3 linked regions of the Homo sapiens genome follow. The protein of the gene in region 2 purifies or fractionates together with the protein of the main gene of each other region. This does not show direct contact. Each region holds a gene or a part of one and is shown on either strand. Other genes may lie near its edges.

Region 1 (3,500 bases), on a different chromosome or scaffold from region 2:
AGTGCTGGGAATACAGGCATGATGTATTTTTAATTCTTAACATTTTTCTTCCCAATAGAGATCAAGTGACTAGGCTTTTAGTTTTCCATTTTGATTTTTGCTGATGCATGTTTCTAAATAATTCATATTCCAATAGGAAAAGATGGTAAAGCACGCAATAAAGACAAGAGGAATGTAAAGAAGCTCGCAGTGACAAAACCGAACAACATTAAGTCAATGTTCATTGCTTGTGCTGGAAAGAAAACTGCAGATGTGAGTTTCATGGTTTCCTTATTTTTTGTATTTTCCTTTGTGAGGTGAATTTAATATTTGATTATACAGATAACAGGTGCTCTGTATATATTTGAGTAACATTTTTCCAATTTCACTCACTAAGTTGGATGTAGATTTCTAAGTGAATTAAGGCACCTCAGTGGTTGGAACTTGCGAAATGGAAAAGAGAATTGAACAGAAAAGCTGAATTGAGAGTGTGTTTAATTTTAGTGAGTAGCAGGAAGATCATGGATTAAGGGCGAAAGTAGAGGATGGGAGCTATAGATGTAGGAATGCTATATACACAGGTGGTTGTTAAAATCTGTGAATGTAGATGAGCACTCAGAGAGTGAGGAATGAAGAGGCAAGGACTAACTGGCTAGGTCCTTCCTTTCATATACATGTGTGTAGTTTTGGTGAGACATTTTAAGTGCAAGGCTTTCTCATGTTACCTTTCTTTATCATTTCCAGAAAGCTGTAGACTTGTCCAAGGATGGTCTGCTAGGTGACATTCTACAGGATCTTAACACTGAGGTAAATGAATCTCCAGGAGTTGTAAAATATGCAGAGGACATAGACTGAAGAAACACTCTAGTAATTATACAAAACAGACTATTGCCAGAATTTTTTCTTTTTTTTTGAAACAGTAGCTTGCACTGTTGCCCAGGCTGGTGTGCAGTGGTGCGATCTTGGCTCGTTGCAACCTCTGATTCCCAGGTTCCTCTTCCCTGATTCCTGCCTCAGCCTCCCGAGTAGCTAGGATTACAGGCACCTGCCACCACGCCCGGCTAATATTTTGTATTTTTACTAGAGACTAGGTTTCACTATGTTGGCCAGGCTGGTCTCGAACTCCTTACCTCGTGATCCGCCTGTCTTGGCCTCCCAAAGTGCTGGGATTACAGGCGTGAGCCACTGTGCCCGGCCTGTTGACAGAATTTTTTAAAATGTAAGAACGCCAACAAAAAACCCCCCACCAAAAAACAAAGAAACCCCCTTCAGATTGGTTTTATCCCACCATTTTAGGTGAGTATTTCCAGCTGTTAGAGCTGTGTGATTATGTAGATAGGGATGTGTGGGTGTGTGTTTGAAGTAGTAAGAATATACCCAGGAGTCAGTTCTGTGAGTGCTCACTGCTTGTGTTCAGTTGCTGTGGTGTATGTTCCCTAAATAGATTGAAGCCTGTCAATCTGCACAATCAGGTATAAGAGCCTTGTCTTGAATTCTGAGTGGGAATGAAGGAAGAGTGAGTGAACTATCCCTGATAGAACTCAAACAGGATTAGCTGCATTGTGAATTTGAGATTTGGCCATTTCCCATAAAGACTACGCTCTCATTTAGAAGTGTACTTCTTTTAAAGTGACCATTGATTAAAATGACTTAACAACAACACCATGTAGTTTTATCTTGACAATTTTTAAATGTAATATTCTCAAAGGGTCAGTGAAAGTATGTTAAATTTTAAGAAGAAAAAATTTGGGAGGGGGTAGATTTAATATCTATTTTAGTTTTCTTGTGATTTCTATAGTATTGTTGCTATAGTAACCACAGTACATGACATCGATGGGAGGGGGGAGGGGGAAAGGGAAAGAAAAGAAAGCTTTGCTTATTGGGCTTCAATGAGTGAAGAAGTATACTTTTTCTGTCTGTGGTAAACCAAGCATGGCAGTGAATATGTCTTACCTTTCCTTTTAGACACCTCAAATAACTCCACCACCTGTAATGATACTGAAGAAGAAAAGATCCATTGGAGCTTCACCGAATCCTTTCTCTGTGCACACCGCCACGGTAAAGTGTGTAGAGATACCTTCAATCTTGATTTATAGTATTGCTTTAAACTTATTTTGTTGCTTTTCTGTATGAGGGAAATACCTTTACATTTGTTTTTGATTTTTGTTTTAAATTAGGACTCCCATTCAATTTATAGTTTCATGTATTTCAAAAATAGCATGTGCCTGCCTTTTTCATAGTAAATTTGCAGTAACTAGTGTGTGTTTATTATAGGTATTACAACTGTGGTAAATGCAATAATTTTCCTCCCAGAAGCAAGTATTTTTTTGTAAACCTAGGTAACAGTAAAATAATTGAAGCTGTTACATTAATAATACATAAAATCTTTTTATAAAAGGGAACTGTCATTATCTTTGGTCAGGGTAGGACAGTTGCATATTTTTAGTATGTAGGTCTAACTGACTAAATATTTAAAAACGTTTACAGGCAGTTCCTTCAGGAAAAATTGCTTCCCCTGTCTCCAGAAAGGAGCCTCCATTAACTCCTGTTCCTCTTAAACGTGCTGAATTTGCTGGTAAGTGTGATGTCAGGCAGAATTGCAAGAGTGTTGAGTGGTTTCTGTCAAAAATGGAGGCCCTATGATGGAGGAGGTAGAGGAGATTTTGAAGGTGTTGTGATGGCAAGTTTAAATGTGAAGATTTGAATTCATAAAAATTTCAGTAAAAGTTAAAAACACCCAATTTGGAGATTAAAGAGAAATGCAAACATAGTATAGAAAAGGGACAGGCTGCTATTTTAGTGTTGGATAAGCCTTTGTGCGCCTTTGTGTGCCTTTGTGTGCCTTTGTGTCATCGCAATAACACATGACAAGAATGTGTGATGATGCCTACAGGCGATGATGTACAGGTCGAGAGTACAGAAGAAGAGCAGGAGTCAGGGGCAATGGAGTTTGAAGATGGTGACTTTGATGAGCCCATGGAAGTTGAAGAGGTGGACCTGGAGCCTATGGCTGCCAAGGCTTGGGACAAAGAGAGTGAGCCAGCAGAGGAAGTGAAACAAGAGGCGGATTCTGGGAAAGGGACCGTGTCCTACTTGTAAGAGCATTTTATGACTTTTCTGGCAAATAGGACCACAATTTTTCTGTTGGATTTTGAAAGGTTTTTGAAAATGTGATTTCTGCAGAGGAAGTTTTCTCCCGGATGTCTCTTGTTGGGACATTGATCAAGAAGGTGATAGCAGTTTCTCAGTGCAAGAAGTTCAAGTGGATTCCAGTCACCTCCCATTGGTAAAAGGGGCAGATGAGGAACAAGTATTCCACTTTTATTGGTTGGATGCTTATGAGGATCAGTACAACCAACCAGGTAATCATATATAAGGTAACTATATGCCTTTAACTCAGAGTAGGACTTTTCCCTTAAATATTTTATTTTTTGTTTCTTTTTGTGTGTTTTGTCTTTTTATTTAATCAGTTTATTTCTGTTTTTTTTTTCTTTATCCTTAAATACTTGAGTCACTGTAAT
Region 2 (3,500 bases):
AAAAAAAAAAAAAAAAAAAAAAAAAGAAAAGAAAAAGAAAGAAAGAAAGAGGGTAATCAGAGGGTCATGACTTCCTATGAGCTTCCTCTCTTGGCAGTGCCTCCGCAGAACTCTCTCTACTTTACATTCTTCCATGTTAGCATGTGGCTCCACGGGGATCTGAACTTAGGATGTTTATCCCCCTCCAATCTAAATGGGATTCGCTAATGTTCTGGCAAGTAATTCTAAATTAGTAAAGCCTCACTGAGAAACTCTGTTTTTGAAGAAATTTAATTTTCCCTTATTTCCCACTTTATTAGAGGCATACATAACATCCTGTTTTTAGGAATGGACTTAAAAGGATACCAGATCACAACTTCCCTGTAATTGAGCAGATAATAAAACAAAGTTTTAACTAATTTAACTAATTAAAAAAACATCCTAGGGTCAGCCAAACTTTCTATCCCCAAAGAACCTAAGTAAGCTTCAACAAATACTTGCAAACAAACAGATTAACTCTGTAACAACAGCAAATTCACCTGCAGATAATGCATGGCTGACCATTTAATTTCCTCTTCTCAAAAAAATCAAATGTCCTATATGCTATCTTCAAATCCTATAACTAATGCTGTTGCTTGAAATAGAATCTACATGTTTGCCACCTTACAAAAATTTTGGCTTTACCACTTACCATTACCAATGCCAGATATTCAAGACATCTAAAATACTACTTTTCAAACACCCAAGAGCCAAGAGACTGAGATGACTCAAATGTAATGTGCCGCTCGGCTGTCGTCTGGTTATTTGGAGTTCAATTCCAGATTCAGTCCTCTCTGAGAAAGACAGTATTTAAAGAAGCCATGTTGGCCGGGCGCGGTGGCTCACGCCTGTAATCCCAGCACTTTGGGAGGCTGAGGCGGGTGAATCACCTGAGGTCGGGAGTTCAAGACCAGCCTGACCAACATGGAGAAACCCTGTCTCTACTAAAAATACAAAAATTAGCCGGGTATGGTGGCAGGCATCTGTAATCCCAGCTACTCGGGAGGCTGAGGTAGGAAAATTGCTTGAACCCGGGAGATAGAGGTTGCAGTGAGCTGAGATCGCACCATTGCACTCCAGCCTGGGCAACAAGAGTGAAACTCTGTCCACACCCCGCCCCCGCAAAAAAAGAAACCATGTCAGTATCTTTGGAAACACTACATTCATTGAAACACTTTCTGAGCTTTACACTGAAGCTGAAGCTATAAAGGTGAGTTTCTAACACTGAGAAGTTTTCAGATTTCATGACTATAAATATGTTTATAATGAGTTAGCAAGATTCCAGAAAATTGGACTGATATATTTTACTTTATTTATTTATTTTGAGACAGGGTTTCACTCCATGGTCACCCAGGCTGGAGTGAAGTGGTGCAATCTCGGCTCACTGCAGCCTCCGCCTCCCGGGTTCAAGTGAATCTTGTGCTTCAACCTCCCTAGTAGCTGGGATTACAGGCACACACCACCATGCCCAGCTAATTTTTGTATTTTTAGTAGAGACAGGGTTTCACCATGTTGGCCAGGCTGGTCTCAAACTCCTGACCTCAGGTGATCTACCTGCCTTGGCCTCCCAAAGTGCCAGGATTACAGGCTATTTTACTTCAGTCTTATTTCTCCAGGTGTGGTGCCTGCCTGTATTGGCAGAAGTAACTGGGAGAACATGTTTAAAATGTGGATTCCTGGGCCCTACTTCAGATCTACTGACTCAGAATCTTAAGCCCAGGAAGCTGCATTTTAACAAACTCTTCAGTGACTCAGAAGTACATGGAAGTCTGAGAATCTCTGCTCTGTGGAGAGTGGTATGTCTGCCCACAAGAACAAGATTCTGCCCTGGGGAGTTTCGGTCAGGAAGAAATGGTGGAAATAAGAGCAAACATTTTAATGAGACCCTAGTTTGGGCCAAGTATTTCACATTATTATCTCATTTGATTGCACAATGACTCCTGGAGACAGGCATTATTAACCCACTTTAGGGATAAAGAAATTAAAGACAGAGAGGTTAAGTAGCCAGGAGTCAAATAGCTGCTAAGAGGCAGCCCTGAGATTCCAACTCTGTTTATTATCCTAGTGCCTATTGTTTTTTCATACACCAGCTGTGCAGTCTTGAACTGGGCTTTATTTTCCATCATCAATTAAAATCAGAATAGTAATAGTACCTATCTCATAAGGTTGTTATAAGGATTCAATGGGATAAAGTGTGTAATGCATTAGCACAGTGCATGGCAATAGTAAATGCTCAGTAAATGTTACCTATTATTATTATCATACCATAAGCAATACCTAGGTACCTACAAATAATGATAATAGATATTTCCTATTGGAAATATACCATGAGCCAAACACTATGTTGAGCCCTTTTCATTAATTCAAAAAGTATTTATCAAATGCTTATTATACATCTTTAATCCCCCCAGTGACCCATTTTGCAAATGAGAAAACAAAGGGGTCAGAAAGTTAAGTAACCTGCCCAAGGGCAGAGCTAATAAGGGTCCAGGGCAGGATTCAAACCTGGATCTGTCTTACTTTAGCAGATGTGTTTCTAAGGCTTTCCTATGCTGAAAGTTCCCCTCCTACTTTAGAAAAAGAAAAACATAGCAACAGTTTGACAGGTCAATTGGGAATAGTTCCATCAGCCTGTTTAAGGAAATGCCACAGTGGAAGTGACGTGGGAGACAGCACCATTCTTTAACCGGCTCTCACTATAGGTGTCTGTCGCATTAGTGAGAAAGGGCATAAAATGACACACAGTCATTTCCAAATCTGGATGATAAGTTCTATAATCTAATCTTGTTTCTTTTTTCTTTTTTTTTTTTTTGAGACAGAGTCTCACTGTGTCACCTAGGCTTGAGTGCAATGGCGCCATCTCGGCTCACTGCAACCTCCGCCTTCCGGGTTCAAGCAATTCTCCTGCCTCAGCCTCCCAAGTAACTGGGATTACAGGCGCACGCCGTCATGCCCAGCTAATTTTTTTTTTTTTTTAATTTTAGTAGAGATGGGGTTTCATCGTGTTGCCCAGGCTGGTCTCAAATTCCCGAGCTCAGGCACTCCACCCGCCTTGGCATCCCAAAGTGCTAGGATTACAGGCGTGAGCCACCACGCCCGACCTTGTTTCTTTAGAGAGAACATTCTTCACTAGAGGAGACTTTTGCAGGGAGCAGAGCCTTTGCTTTCCAAATTGTCAAATAATGCATTCCCAGGCTGTCCACCCTCTGGTGGAATTCTTCAGGAAGCAAGTTAATACAGACCCTGACTATGCTCCAAGAATTAAAAAAAAAAAAAAAAAAAGGTACACATAGCTTTCCAAAGAAAACTTCAAGGCACAGTGCGAAGAGTCTGCCCTGATCTGAAGCCCTTTGGCCAGATGCTAATAGAACCATCTGGGCAGGGTGTAAAGTAAGGCCAAAGCTATCCAAGTAAGAATTGGCAGTTTCACACAGAGGACCTTCACACAAAAGAATAAAACAAAGTACATTTTCCTGAGACCC
Region 3 (3,500 bases), on a different chromosome or scaffold from region 2:
CACAGATCAGGGGCTCAGGGATCGTGGGGGCCTGTCCAGAGAAAAGCTGAAACTCTCTGGCAGATCCTGAACCAGGAATTCCCATCAAGATGTGGGACTGAGTTGCCTCTTACATGGGCTTCTCCTGGGAGGGAGCTCAGGGAACTGCTCCTGGAACCCCGTGCCTTGTAACTCAGGTGCCAGCACACGCTATTTGGAAGCTTGGTTTTCCCATTTGATAAATCAGGGGCATCTTCTTTTTTTTTTTTTTTTGAGGTGGAGTTTTGCTCTTGTTGCCCAGGCTGGAGTGCAATGGCGTGATCTTGGCTCACCGCAACCTCCGCCTCCCAGGTTCAAGCAATTCTCCTGCCTCGGCCTCCCTAGTAGCTGAGATTACAGGCATGCGCCACCAAGCCTGGCTAATTTTGTACTTTTAGTAGAGATGGGGTTTCTCCATGTTGGTCAGGCTGGTCTCGAACTCCTGACCTCATGTGATCCGCCCGCCTCAGCTTCCCAAAGTGCTGGGATTACAGGCATGAGCCACCGCGCCCAGCGGCATCTTCTTTTTTTTAATTTTAGAGACAGGGTCTAGCTCTGCCGTCCAGGCTAGAGTGCAGTGGTGCTATCACGACTCACTGCAGCCTTGTCCGTCTGAGCTCAAGTGATCCTCCTGCCTCAGCCTCTTAAGCAGCTGGGACTGTGTGCCAGCTGTGTGCCACTAAGCCTAGCTAATTTTTTGTAGAGATGGAGTCTTGCTATGTTGCCCAGGCTGGTCTCGGGCTCCAGGCCTCAAGCAATCCTCCTGCTTCGGCCTTCCAAAGTGCTGGGATTACAGGTGTGAGCCACCATGCCCAGCCTAGAGAAATCTTTTCATATTAGGGAAGGGAAGTATTGTAAATGGCTGCTGAATGCCCCATAGAATGAATTCTCCACAATTATACAACCATGCCTTCTTTTGCCTGGTTTTCAAATTTCTCTATTGGTAAACATTTTTGCATCTGATAATCTCATTAAGTTCCCAGGCTGGGCACAATGGCTCACATCTGTAATCCCAACACTCCTGGAGGCTGAGGCAGGAGGATTCCTTGAGGCCAAGAGTTCAGGACCAGTTTAGGAAACATAGCAAGACCCCAGCTCTAAAAAAAGTTTTTTAAACTAGCCAGGTGTGGTGGCACATGTCCGTAATGCCAGCTACTCAGGAGGTTGGGGCAGGAGGATAGCTTGAGCCCAGGAATTGGAGGCTGCAGTGAGCTCCAACTCACGGCAGATTGCAATGCCTGCACTCCAGCCTGGGTGACAGAGCAAGACCCTGTTTCTGAATCAAAACAAAACGAACAAACAAAAGATAAATTTCCAGAGAAGGGAATGATGGAGCAAAGAATGGCACTAAAGTGTATGCATGTCTGTGTGTTTAGAAAATCTGGAAGAAAGGATGCTTAAGTGTCGACAGTTGCATTCTTTGGGGGCATGGGCAACTGCTGTGAATGGTTTGCTGGCTGTTTTTTCACATTTCTGAATTTTTCATGTTTCTAAATTTAGAATGTTGTACTTTTTAATTTAAATTAATTAATTAATTACTTTTTTTTTTCTTGAGACGGAGTCTCGCTCTGTCGTCCAGGGTGGAGAGCAGTGGTGCAATCTCGGCTCACTGCAACCTCTGCCTCCTGGGTTCAAGCAATTCTCTGCCTCAGCCTCCCAAGTAGCTGGGATTACAGGTACCTGCCACCACACTCGGCTCATTTTTTTTTTTTTTTTTTTTTGAGATGGAGTTTCGTTCTTGTTGCCCAGGCTGGAGTGCAATGGCACAATCTCGGCTCACTGCAACCTCTGCCTCCCGGGTTCAAGCGATTCTCCTGCCTCAGCCTCCCGAGTAGCTGGGATTACAGGCATGCGCCACCATGCCCGGCTAATTTTTGTATTTTTAGTAGAGATGGGGTTTCTCCAAGTTGGTCAGGCTGGTCTTGAACTCTTGACCTCAGGTGATCCGCCCTCCTTGACCTCCCAAAGTGCTGTGATTACAGGCGTGAGCCACGGCACTCGGCCCCGGCTAATTTTTTGTATTTTTAGTAAAGATGAGGTTTCACCATCTTAGCCAGGCTGGTCTTGAACTCCTGACCTTGTGATCCACCCGGCTCGGCCTCTCAAATGCTGAGATTACAGGCATGAGCCACTGCGCCTGGCCTAATTTGTTTTTTTTTTTTTTTTTTTTTTTGAGACAGAGTCTCGCTCTGTTACCCAGGCTGGAATACAGTGGCGCAATCTTGGCTCACTACAACCTCCACCTCCCAGGTTCAAGTGATCCTCAAGCCTCAGCCTCCTTTGTAGCTGGGATTATGGGTGTGTGCCACCATGCCAGGCTAATTTTTGTATTTTTAAAAGAGACAGGGTTATGCCATGTTGGCCAGAATGGTCTCGAACTCTTGGCCTCAAGCAATCCACCTGCCTCGGCCTCCTAAAGTATGGAGATTACAGGTGTGAGCCGCTGCGCCAAGCAGTACTTTTTAATTTAAAAAAAAAAAAAAGTTTTATGGCAGCGCAGCGGCTCACACCTGTAATCCCAGCACTTTGGGAGGCCAAGACAGTGAATTGCTTGAGCTTAGAAGTTCAAGACCAGCCTGGGCAACATGGAGAAACCCCATCTCTACCAAAAATTTAAAAATTAGCTGGATGTGGTATTGTTCACCTATGGTCCCAGCTACTCAGGAGGCTGAGGTGGGAGGATCATTTGAGCCCAGGAGGCATAGGTTGCAGTGAGCTGAGATCTCGCCACTGCACTCCAGCCTGGGCAACAGAGGAAGACCCTGTTTCAAACAAAACAAAACAAAAAATACACAACATTTTATCTTGAAATAATTTGAGATGTGTGATAGATGTTTTGTTTTTGAAACCAGGAAGATAGTATTATGGATGGGGGTTGGGGGGATAGAGAAAGGGGATGGGGCAGGGGCAGGCAGGAGATCCTACCAGGATCTCTGGGCAGTGTCTATGCTGATCTGGTGGGGATGGTGATGGAGCCCCATGGGAGGGAGCTCACAGGCCTCCTGGAGGAAGAACAGGCCAGGCTGGCTGTGACTTGCGCTTCACATATACAGTTTTCCCTGAGTGGATGCTAGTATCCCCTCCGCTTGACAGGTGGGAAAACTGAGGCACGACCTGTGAGCAGGCTTCCTAGGGAGGGACACTGGAGGAGACCATGACATGCCTGACAGGGGATGCTGCTCGCCGAGTCAGTTCAGAGCTGCCCTGTGGGTTCACTGAGGGTGCGAGCATGGGGTGCGGGGAAGGAGGTGGGGAGGGTGGGATGGTGGTTGCCTGGACTGGCCTGTGGCAGGGAACAACCACCCAGGAGGGAGCTGCTCACCCACCTTGGCCTCCAGCACCTTCAGCCGCTCTGTCAGCTCTGACACTTTGCTGCAGTTGAGACAACCTGCGGGGAGGGAGGAAGCTGGGGCCAGGGCCAAGGGTCCTAGGCTTCCCCTCAGAACCCTTCAGTCTCTGGGGGTTGGGATGGAGGAAAGCGT

Evidence for each region.
Region 1: the proteins of ALDH1L2 (region 2) and POLA1 purify together in Homo sapiens (affinity purification with mass spectrometry, with the first as the bait; one large-scale study listed by BioGRID). This does not show direct contact.
Region 3: the proteins of ALDH1L2 (region 2) and EMID1 purify together in Homo sapiens (co-immunoprecipitation; one large-scale study listed by IntAct). This does not show direct contact.

The regions. Positions count from the first base shown.
Region 1 is NC_000023.11:24,714,418-24,717,917, forward strand, and holds part of POLA1 (DNA polymerase alpha catalytic subunit), read left to right. Parts: intron 1-136; coding exon 137-252; intron 253-723; coding exon 724-786; intron 787-1,944; coding exon 1,945-2,037; intron 2,038-2,466; coding exon 2,467-2,554; intron 2,555-2,872; coding exon 2,873-3,074; intron 3,075-3,162; coding exon 3,163-3,341; intron 3,342-3,500. UniProt on the Homo sapiens protein: Catalytic subunit of the DNA polymerase alpha complex (also known as the alpha DNA polymerase-primase complex) which plays an essential role in the initiation of DNA synthesis.
Region 2 is NC_000012.12:105,074,459-105,077,958, forward strand, and holds part of ALDH1L2 (mitochondrial 10-formyltetrahydrofolate dehydrogenase precursor), read right to left. Parts: intron 1-3,500. UniProt on the Homo sapiens protein: Mitochondrial 10-formyltetrahydrofolate dehydrogenase that catalyzes the NADP(+)-dependent conversion of 10-formyltetrahydrofolate to tetrahydrofolate and carbon dioxide.
Region 3 is NC_000022.11:29,226,396-29,229,895, reverse strand, and holds part of EMID1 (EMI domain-containing protein 1 isoform 1 precursor), read right to left. Parts: intron 3,407-3,500; coding exon 3,345-3,406; intron 1-3,344.